2 linked regions of the Homo sapiens genome follow. The protein of the gene in region 2 interacts with the protein of the main gene of each other region in a pairwise test. Each region holds a gene or a part of one and is shown on either strand. Other genes may lie near its edges.

The links.
Region 1: the proteins of ERGIC2 (region 2) and HSD17B2 interact in binary tests that used the Homo sapiens proteins (3 or more experiments, as listed by UniProt).

The regions. Positions count from the first base shown.
Region 1 is NC_000016.10:82,028,254-82,041,774, reverse strand, and holds the start of HSD17B2 (17-beta-hydroxysteroid dehydrogenase type 2), read right to left. Parts: upstream 6,523-13,521; 5' UTR 6,351-6,522; coding exon 6,086-6,350; intron 1-6,085. UniProt on the Homo sapiens protein: Catalyzes the NAD-dependent oxidation of the highly active 17beta-hydroxysteroids, such as estradiol (E2), testosterone (T), and dihydrotestosterone (DHT), to their less active forms and thus regulates the biological potency of these steroids.
Region 2 is NC_000012.12:29,361,291-29,373,855, forward strand, and holds part of ERGIC2 (endoplasmic reticulum-Golgi intermediate compartment protein 2), read right to left. Parts: intron 10,381-12,565; 5' UTR 10,344-10,380; coding exon 10,238-10,343; intron 8,933-10,237; coding exon 8,824-8,932; intron 6,998-8,823; coding exon 6,951-6,997; intron 5,658-6,950; coding exon 5,587-5,657; intron 396-5,586; coding exon 355-395; intron 1-354. UniProt on the Homo sapiens protein: Possible role in transport between endoplasmic reticulum and Golgi.

The sequences.
Region 1 (13,521 bases), on a different chromosome or scaffold from region 2:
AGAAGGTGGAGTAAAGACAGAGTCAGAGATTACCTTGGAGGAAGTGTAGGAAGAACCCGGAAGAGTCAAAGGACAAAGAAGCATGGAAATGCAGTTCCTGCAAGGCTAACGAGGCCATGAAAAGAAAGAAAGTATGGTCGGCAGTGCTGGAGCAGAAGTCAAGCTCTGGTGATTAGAAGGACACCAGTGACACTTAGAGAGCAGTTTCAGCAGACTGGTGGAAGCCAGTGGATGTTCTATTTGTGCCACATCCTGGGTAAGCAGGAGCACGCTTAGAACCAAATCAGCATAAAGCCTTGTCCAGGGCAAGCCAACAATTAAGTCACTACAGAACAATGGAGCTTCCAACAGCTCAGCCATGTCACTCTGCCCTTTTTATGCAAATGACCCCAGCAAAAAGAACAGCAAAGGTAAGTACCTAAGTGAGTGGGCAGATTGGGACAATCCTATTGTGTCCAACTAACGACCATGAAAAGGAGAGGACGTTTCACCCACATGGTTGGTTCACTCACTGTGCATTCGCTCATTAACACTGTGTTAGGCCTAACGTGCTGAGAGACTGAGAAGAGGCACATGGTCATAAAAAGAGACCTGGTTCCTGCCTTCAAGCCGCTTGCAGTATAGTTGGCATGGATTTCCATGCAGTCAGAATACTCCCCAGTCAAAACACTCCATCTATAATGCCTGATACAATCATTGTTCAAACTTTCACAAAATTACCCGGGTTATCAAAACCTTTTTTATGCTTCCCTGTAGTAGGTAAAGGTAAAACTTAAACCGCATGATAAGTGGGGACATTTGTTCATGTAAAAATCATCTGGTAGACTGAATTATAGACTCACTAAGGGCCATCCTTTCAACATCCACCATCACTTTGTTGCTCATGCTTCTCCAGCATCTATCTACAAATCTAACCAAGTTCTATTTCATTATTTCCAATTTCCAGTGACACTTCACTTGAACTACCCTTCACTGCTCTCAGACTCAGTTCTGAAGTCAAGCTTAGCACATGGCATGTCTCAAATCATCACCCTCTGCAAACATCCCTAGCCCTGTGTATGGTACTCTTATTTCATCATCCCTCATAAGCATCTTCTACACCCAATCAATTGCCAAGCTCTGTATTAAGCAGAGTCATGGGCACATAACAGATGTTCAATATTTACTTGTTGATTGAATGGACACGTTTTATATCCTGGGTAACCTTTGTGGTCTAATACCAACTATGGATCTAACACTTCTAATGACAGTGGTTAAGAGGATGGCTTTTGGTGAGAGATGGATCTGATCTGGGTTTAGTCCAATCTTGGCTACTTAGTAGCTCAGTGACTTTGGACGCATTTCCTTGTTTACAAATGTGAATTATTAGGGTTGTGAGAATCAAATATAAAATGCATGTAAAGGTTAGAGCACAGAGATGTTATTTCTCTTAGTCTCTTAGTCCACTGTCAATGTTTATCCATCTTAATAATCTAACGTGAAATCCAAAGGAGTCCAAACCCCAAGATGATACCCATGGTATTCAACTTGAGAACCTTATTTGGACTGTTCAGTAATTGCAAGAAGGGATGATCACTCACGTGAGACACTTTCTTGTGAGCATAAAATATTTTCACTGAAAACAGATCTTACTTCTCCTCCTGGATCCGTTCTCCAATATATCCAGTTTTGAAATTTTCAATTAAAAATTATCTAATGCAGCAAGCCTTATTGAGTGCTAGCTGTATTTGTTGTAGCTACTTAACCAATTAGGCTGGAATACCTTCTCACTTTCCCCCTAGAAAACTAATTTTAGATTCTTAACGAGGTCCCTCTTTTTTTGTCAAGCTTTCCCCAGCTCCACACACAAGACCTGTGTCTGCCTGGGATCCGCTTTGGGAATGAACCTGGAGGTTTCTTATGTGCCCCATCACACAGCCACAGTTGGGTGTGGCCGTGTCTTCCCCAGTGGTCCATGAAGCCCTGAGGTGTCTGCTCTGTACACAGTAGATGCTGAGTCGGTTCTCAATATTTGAGATGACTGGAGGGGGCAGGATGAAAGGCCAGAGGATAGAAACTTAAAGTTACCTGTGCATCTCCTGCCAAGCTTAGAGGGTAGGCTGAGAAGGACAACGTGTAACCTCAGAAGAGGGGGAAGGAACTCCAGTGAATGTGTGTCCAAGATGAAGGAAAAGTAGGAATTTTGATCCCATCGCTTGACAGTAATTTCCTGGTCTTAAAATTTTCTTCCCCCTTTGCTTCTGGAAAATGCATGGCACATACTGGGCCCTCAATGAATATTTATTGAGTGAATACATGAATGCTTCTTCTCTCTGTTTGTCAACGTTTTCTTTTGTTCTTTTTGTTCCTTCATGTTCTTCCTAACTACTCAAGCTTTCCCCTCACCACCCCAATACAGTCATTCTCTCTCTCTCTCTCTCTCCCTCTCTCTCTCTCTCTCTCTCATCTGCTAACTCCATCTATAGTAGTATAACATATGCAGGGGTGTGTGTGTGTTTGTGCGTGTGTGTGTGTGTGTGTGTGTGTATTATTTTCCATTTACAGAGGAGAAAACAGAGTCCCAAAATCCAAAACCGAGCACCAAAGTTTACACAGCTGTCCACACAGCTAGTAATAAAGATGCAGCAAATAAGATGCTATTCCCCCAGAACCCTCCCACTGTTGTGTGCATCAATCCATGGTGCACTTTGACTCCCAGCAGCCAGCACCTGCGATTCTTTCCCCAAAGGACCAGAACCCACTTTGCCAGCCAGTGTCCACATGGTGCCAGAAGTGCATGGAATTAAGTCTCCCCTCCTGCCCACAACCAAGGGGGAACAGGGGTGACTGCCCTTAACTAATGATTGACTGGTGTGAAGGCATAAAGACTACAGCTCTCTAGTCTCCAATTGGCACAGCTCTGATGAGTGATCCACACCACCCCACGTCCGCCCAGGGTGATCAAGCCCAAGTGATCTTCAGAGGACTTCTCAATGTCTCACCCTTACCTGGCTTCTTCCTTTTCCCTGCCCATCTTCTCTGGAAACCCTCCTAATAAATCTTTCCCACAAATCCTCACAGAAAGCACTGCCTCTGGGGACCTAGCCTAAGGCAAGGTAGATGCAGGATTCAAACCCAAGCCTGTGTGTCTTCAAAGTTTTTTCCCACTATGTTGTGGTTGAGATGTTATTACAATCGTGTTGGTCTGCTCTTTGTTCATTTTACAGTTATACATTTAAAATGCATCATACAACCCTGTCTCTACTAAAAATACAAAAATTAGCCCAACGTGGTAGCACGTGCCTGTAATCCCAGCTACTTGAGAGGCTGAGGCAGGAGAATCACTTGAACCCGGGAGGCAGAGGTTGCAGTGAGCTGAGATCATGCCACTGCACTCCAGCCTGGGCAACAGATTGAGACCCCATCTCAAAAAATAAAATGAAATAAAATAAAATAAAATGCATCACACATACATTTTAAATATTTGAATGGCCTCTGTGGTTTCAGGTATCTTGAAGACAAATATGTATTCAAACACTCTATGCTTGCTTACTTTTTCTTACTGTAATTATATTGTCTCTGAGGCAACAGACTTTTGAACATCTTAGCAAAATGAAATAAAGGGCTCAAAGGGGAGAAAAAAGTCATTTTTTTAAATTTGTCTTTGTAATTGCCTCTCACCTGGGTCCAAAATTAAATACAAACTAAAAGGAGCTTTAGCTGTTTTGTGTTCTCTTTTAAGTATTTTTATTGTATGAGTAATGTAATCACACCAGAGAAATTTGAAATCCAGGAGAGAAAATAACACGTAAATAGTCTAATCCAACCATTAACCAACTATTTCCTTTATAAACTATTTCCTTTCATTTACAAACTATTTCCAGCACACTAATCCAACCATATACAAACTATTTCTTCCAGCTGTTATCACAGCTTTTTGCCCAGCCCAGGAATCTATGCATTTGACGTGGCTGTAGACTTGTTCCAACCCTGGGATTTCCTGTGTGTTTTCCTTTGGCCCAAGCAGTTTTCCATGTAACACAGTCCTTGTGGCTGTCATTTTTAATGGTTGCACATTGTTATACCCAGAGGATGTACCATATATTATCACCCTTTTTGTTGCTTTTGATATTTAATATTAATCTAAATTAAATAATAAGATTGTGTTGAATGTGCCATTTTGGTTTTGCTTCTACTCTTTTTTTCATATTTCAGATTATGTCTTCAAAATAAATTTCCAAGACTTGAATTATCAGATAAAGGAACCATATGTATGGTTTTGATGTACACTGCCACATTTTTCTTTGGTCCTGCCCCACCACAATGCGTGCTAATCTATGTTATCATAAGCCAATCTGGAACAAAGGTTATTCCAAACTCAGCGTGGCTTCTTCATTCTTTAAAGAGTTGTGGTCTAACAAAATGAATTCATTTTAAATTTCTCGATTTCATACAAAGGTCTTGAGGCCTTGTCTAGGATGATATGAGCACATAGCATTCCTCATAAAAATGACAGAGAACTTGAAAATAACAAAGAACGTGAAAGTGACATTTCAGTCATCCTTAAATATATGTAGTGCTCATCTTAATTCTAAGCTTTCTTCATTGCCATAAGCATTTCATGCAGGGATTAGTCCTTGAGCTTGAGTTGCCTAATTGATTCAATCATCCTCACTCAACACTAAATGCACGGCACCTTTCAGTGGCTGATGTGGGCTCACTGAGTTGGGTGCATATTTTGTGAGCATTAATTAACACCTGCATCTTGAAATGCAGAGGATAAAGAATGTTGACAAAATAAACAAGCAAGAAGGGATTCCCATTTTCTCAGCTACCCTGTGGTTTGCCTGAGCTCATCCTAAGGTTTCATAACAGAACAGGACACAGAACAGGAAAATTGAGACTCTCTTACAAATTTCACCGATAAGCCATTTGAGAATTCTAATAAAAAAGTGGAAAATCCAGCCAGACTCCCAGATACATGATTCCAGGTGATATCAGACATTCTTGCAGATAAACATCCCATTGACTGAATTTTCTCCCTCTAAACTTTCAAAAATTAATTTAAAGAAGCTTCTTTTCTGTGGCTTGTCTAACCCCAACAAGCACCAATTTGCATTTTGTTTCAAGAAAGCATTTTACTTTAACCCAAAAACAAAGTCTGTTTCTCTGCAAATTGTCAAGCCCCAGATTTTCTCCCAACCACATCCCCATGCCATTCTTGCCTTCACCCTGAGGATCATGGTCAGAGGGGTGATGATCTCCCCCAAATGATTCCACAGCTGATTTTTTTTTTATTTGGTAGGGCTTTCTGGGTTAGGATAACGCTGGATAATCCTAATTACAGCCCTATCCAAGCTTAAACTCCATAACCAAGCAAAAATTTTACAACTCAAAGAAATTTAATTTGGCCTCACACTTGCAATGGGGAAACACACACACACACACACACACACACACACACACACACACACAAACAAGGGAAAAACTGGCAGCTCAGCTAACAGGCAACTGAATGTTGGACACGATGCCAAGTTGGTCCAATTAAGAAACATTAGAGGTCTAATGAGGAACAGTTCAGACAGGACACAAGGTTCTTGACAGCAGCCAAGCAAACTGCAAAGTCTCCAGCCCAGGTAAGTGAATCCCTTCAATATTTCAAAACAGCAAGGGACAAGTAGAACTTGGCTTGTAAGCGTTCTTGCATACCTAGGGAAGAAGAGTCCAGGTGGAGAACCTGGCCAAACAATGATGTCAGAACAAAAGTCCATTTAAGCCTAAAAAACAATCTATGGGACATTCCTGGGTACAATAGAACACATGAAATATTGCCATTTTGCCTATTAATATTTATTCCTGGGAAATTTTAACAAAATCATTGTCTGGGTGCACTTCATCCTCTCCTTCCCTCCCACTACCAGCCCCTTCAAATGCACCTCCTGGAAAAAACGGAACGAAAACAGTGTCATGAAAAATACTTGGGTGAGGGCTTTCATTTACTCCATGCCAAGTATTTTATTTTTAAGCCAGATTTGACAAAGTCCTGCTAAGGCAAAGCAAGTTTCAGATCATACCCTCAGTGAAAATTGTAGCACCGTCTGCTTACCTGTCACCAGGACTGCCTTCTGATCCACAGGTAACAATTCTTGGCCAGATAAGTAAGTATACATGAGGAAGCATGACACCGAGAAGAGGATCAAGCCCCAAAAAGGGGACAGGATGAGCAGGCAGACTGCACAGAGGCCTGCCAGGCAGACCATCCAGCTCCACAGCTGCCCTGAGCTCTTCTTGTATTTGCAAAATACTGTCCCACATAGTACTGTGGGGACAGCCAGGCAGATCCATGCTGTGTCCGAGAAGAAAGTGCTCATTCTCAGTGACTTGCTGCACCTTCAAGTGCTCAGGGCCAGTGAGTCTAGCGGGCAAAGGCTGGCTGGAGGCAGCCTGAGTTCTGTGAACAGAGAGTCAAGAAGGGAGGGGAGAAAGCAGCCCCAGCCCCTTTCAACTGAGCATAGATTAAGCATAATCATATTCCCAGTGGGTAATTTAAACCAGTGTGCACTTCAACATAAATACCAAGGCACTTCCTATTTGACCGCTCTCGCCCCTCCCCACCCCCTGCATACACAACACATGCACATACTCACCCACAAACACACACCTTCTATTTTTTTTTAATGACAGTCCACCTCTGGAGCGATGACTAACTGGATAATAATTGACAGAATTTGAACTGCATGGAGAATAACAGGAAGATCCTCTAGCTCACAGGAAAATACTGTCTTCTTCAAGAGCCTGCAGTATGTCTGGGTGCTGAGTCCTTTTTCTGACTCGGGAGTGAGTGAGAGTGTGTGTGTGTGTGTGCGTGTGTGTGCATGCATGCATATAAATATAGGCAATCGATGAAGTTTGGAAAATAGATTCTGGAAGGGAAGGCACCTCTGATCTGGTCCATAGCTTCAGGACTCCTACAAATCCCAACTGAGGCAGGCTGAAGGGTTGGATGGAGAGGGATATGAAAGTAGAGGAAGATATTCCTTGGTAGAGGAAAGTGCTTTGGTCTTGCCTGAGTGGAAACATGCCAGGGAGAGATAATAATGACAATTAACTAATAGCGGCTAATATCTATTGGTAGTTTTTTGTGGCAGAGGCTGTGTATAGCTGCTTATTTGTTCTTTCTCTTTATTGTAAGCCTATTCTATGCCAGCCTCCATTCACTGGGACTCCTCTCATCCTCCTTGAATACAATATCCTTATGAAGTTGATTCTAGTATTATAGTAATTTTACAGGTGAGGAAACCAGGACACAGAGAGGGTAAGAGACTTAGTCAAGATCACACAGCAGTGGAGTCTTGCAGCCTGATCTCAGAGCTGTATGCCCCTAAGCATTCTATTCCACTGCCTGCTTTAGGCAAAAAAAAAAAAAAAAATTAGTGCATTATGTGCTAGATCTTTCCTACTTTCACCCCATTTCAACCTTATAAAACTGTTTGAGGTGGGTGTTATTATTATGGTCAGTTTACAGAGAGAAAAACTGAGGCTGGGAAAAAATAAATCCCTTACTCACAAGCGGCTTAAAAGCCAGCACTCTGCAACTACAGCACCACCTAACCGTGCTAAGCCAGAGAGGGGTCACCGCACCTGGGCTCAGGGCGTGCCCCATGTGGGCCACATGCCTGGCTGGAGGGAGGCAAGGTTGTGATAAAGGCTGGACTTTGGCATAGCTAGAGAGAAACATTCTCTATTTGAGGTCAGTTTCCCTCTATTCAAATCTAATCTTAACTCCACTACTTATTAATTACATAGTCTTGGGAGGGTCACTTCACCTCCCTAGATCTTCATCCCTTTGGCTATAAAATAATATCATATCCTGCCTGGAACAGTAGAAGGAACCTCATAAATGCTAGTGATTCATGTTTTTTAAACAGGAGGAGAATGAAGAATAAGAGGAAGTCGTGTAAAACAAAGTGTCCAGTGGAGTATAGACTTGTCTCAAAACACGTGCTGGAGTTAAATGAGGGGCAGGAGGAGGAAGGGAGAGGATGCCTTTTGTGGATGATGTTGGGGAGGCAGGACTCGGGAAGGAAGGGACCCAGCAGCGTATCCCCTGTAAAGGGAGGTGAGGCAGAGCCCACCTGGGCTCAAAGCCAACTCAAGACCCAAGGGAGAAGGGGTGGGAAGCAGTGTCTTGTGAACCATTACTGTGCTGTGGGACTGTGGGGTTGGACAACAAGGCAGTTATGAGGGTCTGCGTGGAGTGATGGCAACTGTTGTCTGCCCTCCCAGCCACATGGACATTTGAGTCAGGGAGACGTTACCAGCTCCAGGCCAGGAAGCTTAGGGGCAGGGATCTGGAATTGCCTTTGGCTAGCCCTGAACTCTCCCTCCCTCAACAGACCCCAATTCCTTCCTGGGTGCCATCTGAGCCACAGGGCACCTCTCACAATCCTTGTGGCCTCACCAGCCCAGAGCATCCTGGCAGTTAGCTCCGTTCGAAAAACAGCTTCCAGGTGGGGAGACAGGACTAGCTATGGCTCTTCGCTGAGAGTCTTGGCATTTGGTCAGTGGCTCCCACATTTGGGCTGAGCCAAACACCTGCGCAGGCTTCCTGCCAAGTGCACGCCCACTTGAGAGAGGTGGCTTTTCTCCTGGAGGCAGCCCTTGCGAGTTCCCAGACCTACTCTGTCCTGGGGCTCCCAAGGGGAGGGTAAAATCTATGAGCAAAAGCCACCCTCAGGCCACACAGAAGTCCCATGAAGGATACTCCCTGAGCCCTGATGGTGAAGGGGCTGAACAGTATTAAGAACATGAGCTTTCGGGTCTCACAGACTTCTAAATTGAGTTCGAATCCTGGCTTAGCTGTGAGGCACTGGGCAAGTTACCTGCCCTTCCTAAGCCTCAGTTTCCTCTTCTGTAAATTGGCGGTAGGAGGAGTCTTTCTTCCAAGGGCTGTTTTGAAAAGTGAATGACACCATTCTTGCATCGTCCCTGGCACTTACAGGCACTCATGGATGGTAGGCACTTTTCTCATTGTTGAGAGTACCCACTGCCTCTTAGCCTTTTTCCTCTGAGCAGAGAGAGAGGTTCTTGACAGCTACCTCCTCACTCATTTATTTCTTCTTTCAGTTCAGCACTCGGCTGTTTCCTTTGTCATCCTTCAGATATCTGCTTAAACATCACCTCCTGTCACCCAATCTGAGTATCTCCTATCAGCACGCTTTATTCATTGCCTTTGTTGCGCTTAGCTCAATCCACAATTATATATTTACTTTGATCAGTTTAAGAACGTTTTCTGTCTCCCCTACTAGACCATAAACTTCATGAGGGCAGGAACCTTATCTGTTTATTGTTTTTCCTTTACTGTTCACCACGTGCACAGTCCAGTGCCTGGCACATCACATGTACATAATTAATATTTGTTGGAAAAATATAGGAAGAATCACATCTCTATTGAGAGTCTTCTAGGTGGCCAGTTCTGCACCAGCCATGGAGGAATTCAGTAGTGAACAATATAGACCCGGTTCCTGGCCTTGCAGAGTTGAGGACGCAGTGCTTCCAGGAGGCCTGCTGCAGGAGCAGAGACTAGTGGGGGTGCACGGTGGTGGAAAGGAAGGCTATTTACCAGTTGGGGAATATATGGAATTGCAGAATCCCCAGGTGAGAACTAGCCCAATCCTTTCTAAGCCCTGAATGTCCTCATCCCAACCTCAGGGTCAGTCCATCTCAGAGCTACCGCTGAATGAAGATTTCCTGCATCCTATTGAGCTAAATCGTGTCCCTTGTTTGTCCCCACCATTTTGTCGTGAAGCTATTCTCGAGGCCATCATGGCTTGGCCAGTGTCCCCTTGCTTGCAGGCTTGCTCTCAGCCTTCCAGGGAAAAGGAGCCAATTGGACCAACTCATTCTTGCTAATGACGCCAGTGGGTCAATGTGTCATTTCCTCCTGCCAGCAGAGGGGCCTTTTGGAAAATGCCATCTGAAAACAAAACATCCTACCCAAAAGAAAGGATTGCCGCCCCCCCAAAAAAAATTGCTGGGCAAAAAATGCTGGGGAAAAAAAAATGCTGAGAATCCTCCAATGTACACTTTCTTAGAATTGGTGGATGTTGAGTTTAGAAGAGAACTTGAAGAAGGAACTTCCCATCTAAAATGGGAATTCCCTCTGTAACATCCCCACCAAGTGGTCATCTTGTCTATTGCCAGAACATCTCTGAGAACAGGCACTTCACTTCCTCTGAAGGCTGATTTTCCCATTCAAGATGGCTCGGGATATTAGAACATTCTCCTCTAGGTCAAATTCATCTTGACGTTTGTCTTCCCACTCCACGTGGAGTCAGAGGATGTCTTGTTCTATTTCTTTCAGATATTTGAAAGATATTTCAGAGCTCAAACATTTTTAAAATCACATTGTTACAATAATTGAAGAACATTTTCCTATGATGAGGGTAACATAATGACGGCATGATTTGCCAAGCAGAGAATGACTGTGTGTTGATGTCATAGTGACCCAAAGTTCAGGACATGGACAGGGTGGTACCAGCCATAACAGATCATCTCAGGGACATCACAGAGATCTTGTTGGTAATACGAGTTTTTTGTTCGTTTGTTGCTTTTTGAGCATTAGGGTGATAACTAATGTTTGGAGTGTTTGTGATTGCGCAAATATCATGTATTACATATTTATCTATTTTATACAGTGGGCAGGAGTGGGGAGACTAGGAGAAGATAGCCAGAACTTGGGGCTGGACCATGCCTTTTTTCTATCTTTGAAATAATACGTGGTAAAGATGTCTAAACTCCTCAATTATCATAAATTCCAAGTAAGTCAGATCTCATTTTTTTTTTTTTTTGTATAGGGTTTCAGGGATCTGCAGCCACTTCTCAGAATGGCATCCAATTACTTACATCTCCCCTGAAAGATTAGGCCCAGAACTGGGCACAATATTTTCAGTACAGTGCAAAGAACATAGAATAGAGTAAGATTATCACCTCCCCTATCCTTGAAGCTTTATTTTTGCTTATGTGTCCAAAGACTTATTTGCTCTTTTAACAAAAGTGCCCTATTCTTGACTACCACGGTGTTTGTTATCAAATAAAATTCGTTTTTATAGTTTCTGCGTCACTTTTAACTTTTTATAGTAAAATATCATACACATGAGGAGAAATTATCCAAAATATAAATAAATACCCATTCCTCCATAGTGATATAAATACATTATCAGCTAGGTGGATGAGAAGAGACAAATCTCACATGCTGAAGAATTATAAATAATGGACATAAATACTCCTTACCTCAAGGACTTGGAGTGTAACTCCCCATTAAGTGTGAACTACACATGGTAACTTTCTTCCAGAGTGCAGCATGAAAACAGAGAAACAGAGCAACGTTACCACGTAGAAACCAGACGAACACTACCCAGGTAGTGAGGGTCAGCACCAACAATGGCAAATCATGTTGATAGTATGATGTGATTTAAAAAAAAAAAGGCAACTTTATCATTGCAGAACATTCTATGAAATACCCAGCAAGTATTGGGTCAAGGCCATCAAAAAACAAGGAAATTCTGAGAAACAGTCACAGCAAAAAGAAGCCCAAGGAGACGTGACGACTAAATGTAATGTGGAAACCTGAGACAGAAAAGAGACATGAGGTAAAAACCAAGGAAATCTGAATACAGTATAGACTTCAGTTAATAATAATGTATTGGCCGGGCACAGTGGCTCATGCCTGTAATCCCAGCACTTTGGGAGGCCGAGGTGGGCATATCACGAGATCAGGAGATCGAGATCATCCTAGCTAACATGGTGAAACCACATCTCCACTAAAATTACAAAAAATTAGCCAGGCGTGGTGGCGGGCGCCTATAGTCCCAGCTACTCGGGAAGCTGAGGCAGGAGAATGGCATGAACCTGGGAGGCGGAGCTTGCAGTGAGCCGAGATCGCACCACTGCACTCCAGCCTGGGTGACAGAGCGACACCCCATCTCAAAAAATAATAAAATAAAATAAAATAATAAAAATAAAAATACTAATGTATCAGTATTGGTTTATGAATTGTGACAAATGCCTCAGTGTGAGGTCAGATGGAAATTCACATCACAACTTGGTATGTAACCAGGCTATTTGCAGAGTGGTGTGTGTGTGTGTGTGTGTGTGTGTGTGTGTGTGTGTGTATCTGTCTTTCTGGGGGCATGTATATGTGTATAAACCTGTATGTGTGTGCTTGTGCACAGGTGTACGTGTGTGTAGGTGTGCCTGTGTCTGTGTGTGTGTAAGTGAGGGTACGTATATCCATATGTAGGTATGTGGGTATTCGTGTATGTGTGTACATGCGTACATGTATGTTTATGTACACATGTGTGTAGAGTTGTGTGTCTGTGTCTGTGAGTGTACGTATGGGGTATGGGGCGGATGTGGGAAGCGTGTGGGGGTGTCTCCATTCATGTGTGTGTATATGTGTGTGTGCACATGCATGTGTAGATATGTGTAAGGGTGTTGTACAAGTGCACACATGCATAGGTGCGTGGATGTGCATGTGTGCAGGTATATCTGTATATTCGTGTGTGTCTTTGAGTGAATATATGTGTATGTATGTGCAAGTGTGTATGCATAAGTAGAAGTGTCTATCTCTGTATCTGTGTCAGTATATGTATGTGTGTGCATATGTGTACATAAGTAGATGTGTATATCTCTGTGTGTAGGTATATGTGTGTATGTGAATATACATGTAGATGTGTACATGTATCTCTCTGTGCTTAGGTACATGTGTGTATGTCCATGTGTCTATGTATATATAGATGTGTACATCTCTGTATCTGTGGGTAGGTATATGTGTATATGTGTATGTGTGTATATATGTAGATGGGTACATCTCTGTATCTGTGTGTAGGTATATGTGTGTATGTGCATGTGTGTATATATATAGATGGGTACATCTCTGTATCTGTGTGTAAGTATATGTGTGTATGTGCATGTGTGTATATATATATATAGATGTGTACATCTCTGTATCTGTGTGTAGGTATATGTGTGTATGTACATGTGTATATATGTAGACGTGAATGTGTGTATATATATATATATATACCTCTGTATCTATGTGTAGGTATATATGTGTGTATGCATGTGTGTATATACATAAATGTGTATCTCTCTGTATCTGTGTGTAGGTATGTGTGTGCATGTGTGTGTATATTTAGCTGTGTACATGCATCTCTTTGTATCTGAGGGTAGGTATACGTATGTATGTGCATGTGTGTATATACCTAGATGTGTATGTGTATCTCTCTGTATCTGTGTGTAGGTATGTGTGTGCTTGTGTGTATATATGTAGATATATACATGTATCTCTGTATCTGTGTGGGTATATATGTGTGTTTGCATGTGTGTATATATGTAGATGTGTATGTGTATCTCTCTGTATCTGTGTGTAGGTGTCTGTGTGTGCACGTGTGTATGTGTTTGTGCACATGCACTGCCAGCGAGTCAACCAGTCAGTCCACTTCCAACAAGTAGGCCTGCTCACAGCTGCTGGACCAGAGG
Region 2 (12,565 bases):
CAAAGCCTTCCTGTGGGGCCGCAGTCTGGACAATCTTGCTTTATATCATTTCTATTCAAATTGAATTTTTAAAATGATCATATATTACTTTTGTAATCAAAAAATGTAAATAGTTGATACCATTTTAAATAAAAACTAAAACTTATGAATCAAAGTTTACCAGAGAAAAGATTATGCATGACTTTCTTAAGATCTGATGGTTTTTGAAATTGTAAGGATTATATTATATACCAAATTCTGCTAAGAATTCATCCAAAGAAATCCCTAGAGAAATGTGTTAATCTATAAATAGTTTACAATAGACAAAATATGACTTAGATTTCTATGGACCACAATACTTTGTTCTCTTATTACCTCTGCCACTCTTTCTGCTGTGGTGAAAGATCAAATACTGTCTGAAATGAAAGAAAACATAATCACTAGCATTGTCAAATTCTCTTGGCTTTTACATCATAATTTAAAATTTTTTCTTTGAGCAGGAAACATAAACTTAAGTGTTGTTAAAAACAAGTATTCATGGTTTACATTCAACTTCTATAAGTCAAATTAAAATTTTAATGTGCTATCTTTACTGAAAAATAGCATAAAGAAATTTTCTAATCACAAATACTTTCCTGTTACAGTTATCGACATTTACAGGAATATATGCAAGTTGACAATTTATCATATGTACAAAATGGTATCCTAGGGCTTAAAATCATTTAAATGATGCTAGCATGAAATTCACAAGTATTAGGGTACAAAAATACAGAGTTATATTCAAGCATCCAAAGCCCAAATTCTTGCTGGTAAAATACAATAATAAAATCAACAATTTTTGAAATGAGTTTAAAAATAGCACAGTTAATTCCCAAATGCATTGATCAACAAAGAACTACTTAAGAAATTTTATCTAGGCATGATCAAAGTTAGACTTGGCTACTTGCAGAGTCAGAGAAAAATATGCAAACTTCTCATAGTAGCTATATCCACAATTTAATTTTGCAACAATAATCCACTTTTCGGCCGGGCATGGTGGCTCAAGCCTGTAATTCTAACACTTTGGGAGGCCAAGACAGGCGGATTGCCTGAGCTCAGGAGTTCAAGACCAGCCTGGGCAACATGGTGAAACCCTGCCTCTACTAAAATACAAAAAAACCCTGTCTGTACTAAAATACAAAAAATCAGCTGGTGGTAGGCACCTGTAATCCCAGCTACTCAAGAGGCTGAAGCACGAGAATTGCTTGAACCCGGGAGGTGGAAGTTGCAGTGAGCAGAGATCTTGCCAATGCACTCAGTCTGGGACACAAAGTGAAACTCCGTTTCAAAAAAAAAAAAAATCCACTTTACTAGTCCTAGTTCACAGCTCTACTTCTGTGATTTGATTTTTTAATTTAATTACATCAATCTGGAACATGCCTCTCCGGTAACTGTGAGAGCCTCATGTCTAAGTTTTATATAACTATATGCTTCAAGTTAAATTGTCCCAATCTTTCTGATGTTTCCTTTGATTACACCTCCTGATGAATTTGCCTAAAGCATGCTACCAAACCTTTTTCACATTATAGCATATAAGGAAAATGCTAACATCTATAAAACACAACACAGCAAACCAATAAGGCTGTTGGCAGTTACTCTCCAGCTAATGTATAAATAAAATGATTGACAGTGGCGACTATATGATTTTTCCTTTGAATTCCAAAACCTTCTTTGTACAATGTTTACTTAGCACAAAGGTATAAAGAAACTACTTTGTAGGCCCTATGCTAATTCATTATCTCACTTAACCTTCCTAACCACCTCGTGAATTTTTTACTCCTCTTCCCTTTTTGCACATGAGGAAGCAGGAGCTCAAAAAGTTACAAACTTTCCAAAATCACAGATAGTAAGTAACAACCAATACACAAATTCAGCTCTGTCAGATTTCTTACTTTCCCACCTTTTAAAAATTCTTCTTGTCTTTAAATAGTAACTAAATGCAATAGAAATAGCAGAATAGTAACTATCATAGCATATTGTATGATCATGGCTTGTAAACTAGTAAAGTTATCAGGGCTAGGTTTTTAATATTCAGAGTGCATATTAAAATAATGAGTGAAAAATTTTTAAGTTAAAATGATATTTTTAATAATTTTATATTAAAAATAATTCTTAAACACTTTTATATAAATTAGCACAAAGGAATGAATAGTTTCCTAAAAGCATGGTTAAACACTTTAAATATTACTAATGAAAAGTATACAATTAAATATTTTGAAGTTCTTAACTTTCTCATTAAGATACAATTTTTAATTATAACAATTTAAATAAAATTTTCCTGCTCCATAAACTACTAGAAGAGATGGCAGAAACTGTTTACAATGAAAACAGTCAACAATACTGTCCCAACTGCTTAATTCTAACATATCACTATTGCCTAAAATCTGCAAAGCATTTTGCAATGCATTTTGAGAACTACAAAGATGAAAGAATGAAATTAATGATTCTCAAGAGCTTAAAATCCAGCTAGAAAGATAAGAGATGTAGGGGGAAAAAAAAAGATAGCATCAGGCATCTCATAAATGTGAAAAAAAAAAAAAAAGAGAGTGACCACAACAGTTAGAATATGGACAGAATGCTAGAGAAACAGTGTAAGTGACTTTTAGAGGATACATTCAAGATTATAATACATAAACAATAATTCTCAGCATCCAAAAGAAACATAAAAATGAGGATGCAACCTTTATTATCATCTTAAATCATTTTAAATTAATATTCATATGCTGTAAACTTTCATGAATTTATACAAGACAACATACAAATGAAACCAAATTGAGAAAGAGCACAAAATAAGTTTATTTCATAGGATAGAAAAACCCATGTGAAAGGGATTTTCCCAGTTCAGAGCAACAGAGAAAATGGGTAATAAAAGATAATAGCAGAAGATACAGGCAGTCATGCTAGAATCCATAAAACATACCTACACATTCTTGCTGTAAAATAAATCTCAAAAAGTCCCCCCTCAACAGAATGGAGAATCCAGAAATCAAGCTGCACACCTGCAGCCATTTGATCTTTGACAAAATCAACAAAAATAAGCAATGGAGAAAGGACTCTCTATTCAATAAATGGTGCTGGGAGAGCTGGCTAGCCATATGCAGAAGAATGAAACTGGGCCCAGATCTTTCACCATATACAAAAATTAACTCAAGATGGGTAAAGATTTAAATGACCTTAAACTATAAGAATCCTAGAAGAAAACCTAGAAAACACCATTGTGGGCATCACCCTTGGGAAAGAATTTATGACTATGTCCCCACAAGCAATTGCAACAAAAACAAAAATTGAAAAGTGGGAGCTAATTAAACTAAAGAGCTTCTGCACAGAAAACAAAAACAAAAACTACCAACAGAGTAAACAGACAACCTACAGAATGTGAGAAAATATTCACAAACTATGCATCTGATAAAGGTCTAATATCCAGAATCTATAAGGAATTTAAATAAATTGAACATGTAAAAAACAACCCCATTAAAAAGTCGGCAAAGGACATGAACACACACTTCTCAAAAGATATACAAGTGGTCAACAAACATGAAGAAATGCTCCATATCAGTAATCATAAGAGAAATGCAAATCAAAACCACAATGAGAGGCCATCTCACACCAGTCAGAATGGCTATTACTAAAAAGTCAAAAAGAAAAAAAAAAAAAAGATGTTGGAGAGGCTGTGGAGAAAAGGGAACACTTATATGCTGCTGGTAAAAATGGAAATTAGTTCAGCCACTGTGGAAAGCAATTTGGAGAGTTCTCAAAGAACGTAGAGTATTATTTAACCCAGCAATCCCATTACTGGGTATATACTCAAAGGAAAATAAATCATTGTATGCAAAAGACACATGCACTCTGATCTTTATTGCAGCACCATTCACAATAGCGAATACATGGAATCAACCTAGGTACTCATCAGTGGTACATGGGATAAACAAAATGTGGTATACATGCACCAGGGAATACTATGCAGCCATAAAAAAGAAGAAACTTTTATCCTTTGCAGCAACATGAATGCAGCTGGAGGCAATAATCCTAAGCAAATAAATGGCAGGACAGAAAACCATACACCATATGTTCTCATTTATAAGTGGGAGCTAAACGCTGGGTACTCATAGACATAAAAATGGCAACAACAGAAAGTGGGGACTATTAGAGAGGGGAGGGAGGGAGAAGGAAAAGGATTGAAAAACTACTAGTTATTATGCCCAGTACCTGGGTGATGGGATCAATCATAACCTGAAAACCTCAGCATTACACAATATACTCAGGTAACAAACCTTCACATGTACTCCATGAATCTAAACTAAAAGTTGAAAAAACAGTCCCTCTTCAAAATGATAAACAAAAATAAGGTAAGAATGGCAGAAAATTAAAAAAAAAAAAACAAAGTTAAAGTTAAATAAGTATTCTTAAGATAGTATAAAATGTAATACAAATATTAAAATATCTAATAATAATCACTTAGATCAAAATGAGCAGATAATAGTGTAATATGCTGTCATATATGAATCTGTAAGGTAACTAAGCTCATAAAAAATTACTTCAAAATCGATTTTTTGAGTGGGAAAACGAGTCAGAAAGTAGAGTCAGAGTGGCAATAACAAAAGTTACTGTTTCTGTAGAAATTTCTATTTAAAATGTATATGTCAAAAGGCACATATCAAGTTTGTAGCTGTAAACTAAAATTAATTCAATAATCAAAACTGGCCAAGGACTTCATTTTCTTTCCTTTAACCCCATACATTCAGTCACTTCTACTCCCCCTCCTTCACCTTCACTCTTCACTTTGCAAATTTGCTAAAAGAAAGGTTCACAATTGTCAATGATTAAGAAAAGGAACTCAAGAACGCATGCGTAAATTTAAGTACCACCATGCCAACAGAGCAACTTTTAGCTGCTGAGGGCCTCATGCTTATTCTCGAAAGCTTATTTAGGGCTAGTTCTGATCATGACTCGTTATCACTGTATCTGCCACTGAAATGTGACAATATTTTCTGATAAATCTACGATGTTATATTCAACTTGTGCTCTGAAGATAATAAGAAAATGTCAGCATTTCACACGCTGAGGGAAATAGAGGCGTAAAGGAGGAAGGAAGTAGTAATGCCCATGACATTTCTCCTCTTAGAAAGATACTACTTTATTCTTGATTGTAAGAGAAATACAGTTCAAATATTTTAAATACTTAAATTTGGTCATAGTAGAATACAAACAGGACATAAAAGTTTCCAAATTACTAGAGAAAAAGAAAAAAACTCATCACTATAACTAGAAGAAAAGTGAAAAGGAAACTACTGGAAAGTAATAACAAAAATATTAAAAAAGGTTATAAAACAGACTTTAGACACATCCAAAATACATCCAAAATGTTAATAATGGTCACCTCAAGATTTTGGTATATAATATAACTTTTCTGTTTTTCCCCCTAAATTTATTACAAAGAATATGGATTACTTTTGAAATAAAAGAATTATACTAAAAACTATTTCAGACAAAACTAAAAGCAACTATCTGTCTTCAAGCGTACGATTCCTCAACCCGTGTATTTCAAAAAACCATGTGAATCAAACTTACTGGTTCATAAACTAAACCATCTGCAGATGCAACCATTGTTTCTGCTAAATCCAATACATCCGCTCCAACATCTGCATAGAAAAAAGAATTAGAAGTTTTACATTCTATGCTTGGAGGCAAACCATCCCCAATATAAACAAATTAAGCCAACTAACAGAAAACTCACCAAGCAAAAAAAAAAAAAAAACCTCACCAACTATGTAGAATAATTTCCGATATATTTGTCCAAAAGCTAAAACAGTAGCCTTATATAGCTTAGGTGGAGATTATTCCAAAATGTAATAATGTTTTTTCTTACCCAGTAAAAAACTTCTTACCCAATAAAAAAAAAAAGATAATTCAAGATCTCATTTAAAAAGGATAAGCGTCACTGAATTGAAGAGCTTTGCAAATATCGGCAAGAACCTAATCACAAGTACTAAGTGGCTGCTGAACAAAATATTAATTCCAAGAAATATTTTTAGAGATTAAAAGAAATCGTAAAGCTATGCTACAAATCAACAAATAGGAAATTTTATTCGGAAAAGGCTAAAATTTAACAGTATTTAAACATCCAAAATAAGGCAGAATATCATATATTCAGAATTACCACTAACTACAAGTTTAAAAATAAAGTATTTTTTTATCTCTTAAAACCACCAACATAAGGAAAAACATATTGAAAAGAAAGAGATTCAAGGTCGTTCTGAGATAGAATCTCACAGAAAATAACCTCTAATTAATTGGGTAAAATTATTTCATACTTTTAAAAATGTAAAAATTTTCTCTGAGTTCTTGGTCTGTAATTTTTAAGCAGTAACTCATAAAATATTTTTCATGCAAAAGCATTCTTATTTTTGAAAACAGTATTGATTCAAACATTCACTATCTGGCATATTAGCATTTTTCCACTTCTATTAGTATAACCAAGTGAGTCCAGTGACGAAAAAAGAAAAGGGTAACCTATCACCATTAACTTAAAATAACTGGATCTGTATTTTTAAACGCAAGAGTAAACATAAAAGGTGGTAAACTGAAACAGTGACACAAGGATATGCTTGTGAAACATGGGTATAAAAGCTAGTACTCCAAACAAAAAAAGACAGAAAGGATGTACATAAACTAGAATGCTGATTCACAAACATTTCCTCCAACTTTCTTTTAATTATACTAATGTGAAAGTTTTATCTCTTCTCTTTATGGAAAAGAAACTTGAAGAATATAAGCTGAGGAGTAAAACAATTTGTATTATTAAATAATACCACAGTAAAACTTTAAAATATTATAAAGGAAAAATAAAGTACAACCAGTGATTTTTATTTTTGCTTGGCAATTGTTTGAACCATAACCTACATGTGGATTCAGCAAGTTGAAGGTGTACTTACATTGACACTTCATGGCAACAGTAATATCTATATTAATTCTTAATTTGCTGAAAGACAAAATATTAAACATTAGTACCTACCAATTAATTAGCAAAACATGAGAAATATAAATCAACTGACCTATTAAAAACTTGGATTTCAAGCAGAATAAATTATGTCGATTAGAACTTGAATTGCATTTCTCATGGCCAAAACAAAGGCTCTTTAAATTACAAGTTCTATTTTGCCCTTATTCCAAAAGCCTTTCTGACTTCACAGGTTTTTGAACACAGTATCCTTTAATAATGGCAACTCTATAATCAATAACTCTAAGCAACTCAGAAAAAGTCTTAACCTCTTAATCTCTATTTACATAAACTTTTGATAGAATGTTCTTTTAAGAATGTAAAACTCTCAAAATCAAGAATTAGGAATTGTCTTTCTTCTCTGTTTATCAAACACCATATATTAAGCATGATGCTAGATGTTCTACAAATATTATCTCCTTTATTCTATATCATGGAGCTATAAATGGATGGCTTCACAGATTTTCAAGTAAACCACTGGTGTTCACGGTAGTGTAAATACCTGGCTTAAGATCACATCACCATTAAAGTGGCATACTGGAAACTAGGTCTATGTAACTCAGGATAAATGCAACCAAACTACCAAAAGTAAATCACCTGATGCTTAAAATTTTTCATGGCCTTTCATTTTCAAATGATTAGATCAAAGCAATTTTCGAATACCAGAATGAAGCATTGCGAATAATAGACTGGCTATGATCAAATTCAGTCCTGTGCTTTCTATGATAACTTTTTTCTGTGTAATAATTTTCATCTGATTTAAAATAGGAATTACAGATTTTTAGACCTTCATGAAGTCTTAAAGTCATCTAGAGTTCAAACTGTGTTCCAAATAACCCAGGAGTTTAGGCTCAGGAGATAGGAACCAGGAGTAGGCCAAGTAGACAAACTTCTGCATATCCTCACCATGCTTATGTGGCGAACTATGTAATACATAAGACTTCATTTGGAAAAAAATGAAGTATTGCATTGGTGCTGAAAACAACAACAAATTCTTTGAAAACCAATACTATCCTGAATAGTACATTAGAGATGAAGAAACTGAAGTCCAAAAGAAGTCAGTGGTGTGACCTGCCCAAGGTTACACAGCAATTTACAAATGTTGACTAATTTAATTCTCATAAACCTCTTGAGGAAGATACTATAATTGCTGTCTGTACTTTACAAAAAAGGAAACTGAAGCATATACAGGTGCAGATTTAGTAAATTCCCTAAAATTATGTAAATGGCAAACCTGGATTGTAATTGAAAACTAAATGTGTCTTCCTATTTGGTGCAATCTTAATATTATAAACCTATTATCTTCATTCCATTGAAGAAATCCAAATAATACAAACGAATAGATGTAAAGTGTATAATTAAGGTACTATATTTTCAAAAGTTTAAAAGTAATCTTATTTACATAAAGATTTAGCTTAGGTATAATTTATAGACATCAAGTCATAAGGGTATACAATGTATCCTTAGACAACTTATTTTCCAGCTCACACAGATCAGTGAGGTATTTCAACCAGTTTCAAATATTAAACAATTTCCACAATATACATATCTAAGGAAAAATATTCCCCTAACTTTTTGAAACAAAGCATGCTAAATCAAAGAACCTCAGTTTTAGAATTCAACCACTATTTAAATGATTCTAAAAGGTTTCACTTAATGCATGCAATTAATGAGAATTTTTCAGGACTATTTCTTCAGAACTAAAACAAACCAAATCTAGAAGGTTAGACTTTTTCTTTTTTAAAAGGTATGCTCTTTTTAAAACAATTTGAATCTAAAGGTATTCCAAGAAGAAAAAAAATGATTACCTAGAAAAATCCTTGTCTACTTCGTATTCATACTTCATCCATGTATCTTGATATACTGAGAATTCCATTATGGTTAATAAAGCCATAGTTGTAAATGCTATTAGAGAAACTGGGAAATCCAACAACAAAAGAAAAACAGAATTAAAACAATAAAAAAAGCAAAGAATAGGAAACTAATTTAAGTGAGATTAAATTTTCAAAAGAAAAAGCCTAATAATGTAACTTCCATTTGAATGCATACTATAGAAGGTTTTTATTCAAAATGTTTATTATGCATTTTTTCTAATACAGCTCAAAAGTTAAGGTTTAATATATACAAATATGAACATAAACACTTGCATTACTAAGAAAGCATTTTATTTCTCCAATTTTAAGGGCATCTCTCACTAAGTAGAGTTGACAAAATTTGTATTTCTTATATAAAACAGTGTCACAGATAGGATAAATGATGAAAGTAAGCATGCCTTATAGCACAAATTTGAAAACAGTTGCTTCATTATTAAAAATGCATCCATGTCTATAAATATAATTTGTATATAAATGTATATAAATTGGGCTATAAGCCCAATTTAAAACAAACAAAAAGGTAGCCTAATTTCTTAGATCCTGAGAAACCACAATAATCTGTGTGCCAGAAACTCAAATAACATCTCTAAATAGCTAACAAAACTCTCCTCTACTTGGCAATCTCCTAAATATATCACCTCATTCACAGAACTGAGTAAAAGATCTGACAAAAAGAAAATCTATTATATACTAAAGCAAAATACTTAAAATAGATTTTGCAAGAACTTGCACTATTTTCATTAACAAAACTTAATCACAAGTGGATCAGAAATAGTAAGCAACTTATTACCCATTTTACCAAATAAAATGTCAACCTTAAGTGAAATACATTATTTTACTACCTTTTCATAGGGAAAGAAATTATACTGAATATTGTTATAGTCACACATTTTTCTTATATATTTCATTATTTATTTTACTTAACTGATACTTTTATCTGTACCAGGCACTGGGTCTAAGCATTTTATGAAAATATTAATAGTATAGTAACCCCTAGGAGGTAAATACTAGTATGATCCCTATTTCATGGAAGAAACTAAGACAGATAGATTTGAATAACTTCCTCAAGGTCACATATTTAGGAAAGGGCAGCAAAGCAGAAACATTGGTTTAATGTATTAATGTTTTAATAAACACTGCCAAAGGCACAGATGGCACTGTGTTGGAGGCTATAGAGAATATTAATAAGAATTACAGCCAACAGAGTGGCATGAAGACAGACAAGTTACGAAGTTACGGCAGAATTCATTGATAAATTCTTCCTCATGGCTACATTTCTATATGTTGTTGACTGGATCACGCAGAAGTTGTACTTACTACAGAACTTTTAATGTTAACTGATACTCACCTGTACCTCCACTGGCTGAAGTCTCTACATAGCTCTCAGGAACCTTCGGAAAGGCATCCAACTCTTTTACCAAACTTAAAGTTTTTTTCCGATTCAGTCGCCTCATCTTCAGGAAAACCTTCCTCTTCCTTCATATAGTCATGCTAAGGAATAAATAAATTAATGAATAAATGAATCCTTTAAAGAGATAAAAAGGTTTCTTTAAATTTAGGATAACTGACAAATGTCCTTAAAACAACTTAACATTCTCATCCCCCCTTAAAAATAAAAAGCATAGTATTTATCCACACTACTCCTTTCCCCATTCATGCCCTGACAAAAACTACTAATGGAAGGCAATTTAAATACAAAAACACATTATATAGCAAGAAAAAAAGTGAAAAGTAATTCAATCACATGAATAATGTCTAAATATAAAAATTAAGATAATGTTTTCTATTAAATTGAAAACTATATAAAAATAATACACTTCCAATAATGAATGACAGTGAAGTAAAATGGCCTGCTCATACATTACTAACAAGAATATAGGCCAGGCACGGTCGCTCACGCCTGTAATCCCAGTACTTTGGGAGGCCGAGGCGGGTGGATCATCTGAGGTCAGGAGTTTGAGAAACCAGTCTGGCCAACATGGGAAAACCCCATCTCTACTAAAAATACAAAAAATTAGCCAGGTGTGGTGGCACGTGCCTGTAGTCCCAGCTACCTAGGAGGCTGAGGCAGGAGAATCGCTTGAACCTGGAAGGTGGAGGTTGCAGTAAGCCAAGATCATGCCACTGCACTGCAGTCTGGGTTACAGAGTGAGACTCCATCTCAAATAAAAATAAAAATAATAATAATAATAATAATGGAAGAAGAAGAAGAAGAAAGAAGGTGGGAGAAAGCGGGAAAAGGCGGGAGAAGGGAGAAGAAGAAAAAGAAGAAGAAGACATTTACCACACCACTCCTCTTCTAAGTAAATGCCCATTGAGGAATTTATCCTATGACAATAACCTGCGGTTTTAACCAAAATTTGATTACGAGGATATTTCTCACAGTGTTATTTTTAAATACTGAAGACAGAAACAAATCCATTGTATCCAATGTACAAATTAAGGTGAAGCATCTTTACGTAGCCATTGAAAATCTTTTTTTTTTCTTTTTTTGAGACAGGATCTTGCTCTGTCACCCAGGCTGGAGTGCAGTGGCGTGATCTCAACTCACCACAATCTCAGCCTCCCTGGCTCAAGCGATCCTCCTCGCCTCAGCCTCCCAAATAGCTAGGACTATAGGCATGCACCTCCACCCCCAGCTAATTTTTGTATTTTTTGTAGAGACGGAGTTTCACCTTGTTGCCCAGGCTGGGTCTCAAACTCCTGGGCTGAAGCCTTCCACCCACCTCGGCCTCTCAAAAAAAGTGCTGGGATTATAGATGTGAACCACCACACCTGGCCTGAAACTCTTTTATTTAAAAAAAAAAAAATTAATGACATAAGAAAATAGTCATGATACTGATACAATAAGAAAAGACTAGAAGGTCACATGGATCCTAACTTTATGGGAGACAGGAAAAGATACATAAGAAACAAAACTGAACATCTACACACAAAAATGTTAAAAGTAGATCATGAATTTTAATTGCCTTTACATATAACTTCAGATTTCCCATGTTATCTATTTTTATAATCAAAACATTTAAAAATTGGCTGCTTGCTATTTATCAGCACGTCATCTACATCTAAAAATGTTATAAAGCCAATCAAATAACTGAATTCTTAGATATTTACATAATTTTTATGACTGATTTATAAATAATACTATAGGTAATATTATAAAGAATTCCCAGTAATCAAGGCTTTATTAATAAAATCAACACATAATAGAATAAATCGTACAGTTGCAGAAGTCACTATAAGAGAAATAATGTCTCTGGAAGAGAGCAGACAGACTTTGGGTCTGAAATCTAATGGGGAGGATTAATATACAAAGAATAGGCAAAAGAAAGAAGATTCATAAAGAAAAAGAAGGGCCAGAGAATGAAAAACTGGCAGTAAACATGAATACTGTCTAAAGGAAAGAAGCTCTGACCAGGAGCACTATTTATCAGTCCAGCAGGGAGCTACTACTCTACAGTAGAGTTGAAAGCATTAATACATTGATTTCCTCTGCCATTAAAATCAACCAACTAAACTTCCCTTGCTGGTTCCACACTCACAAAGCAGCCTTCGAATTATGATTTTTTTCCCATGCACTTAGTATTCGAAAGAAAAAAATAGATGTCATAGACAAAACAGATGACAGTTTTCTGACCCCCACGTCAGTTATAAAACTGGTATTCCCATCGATAAA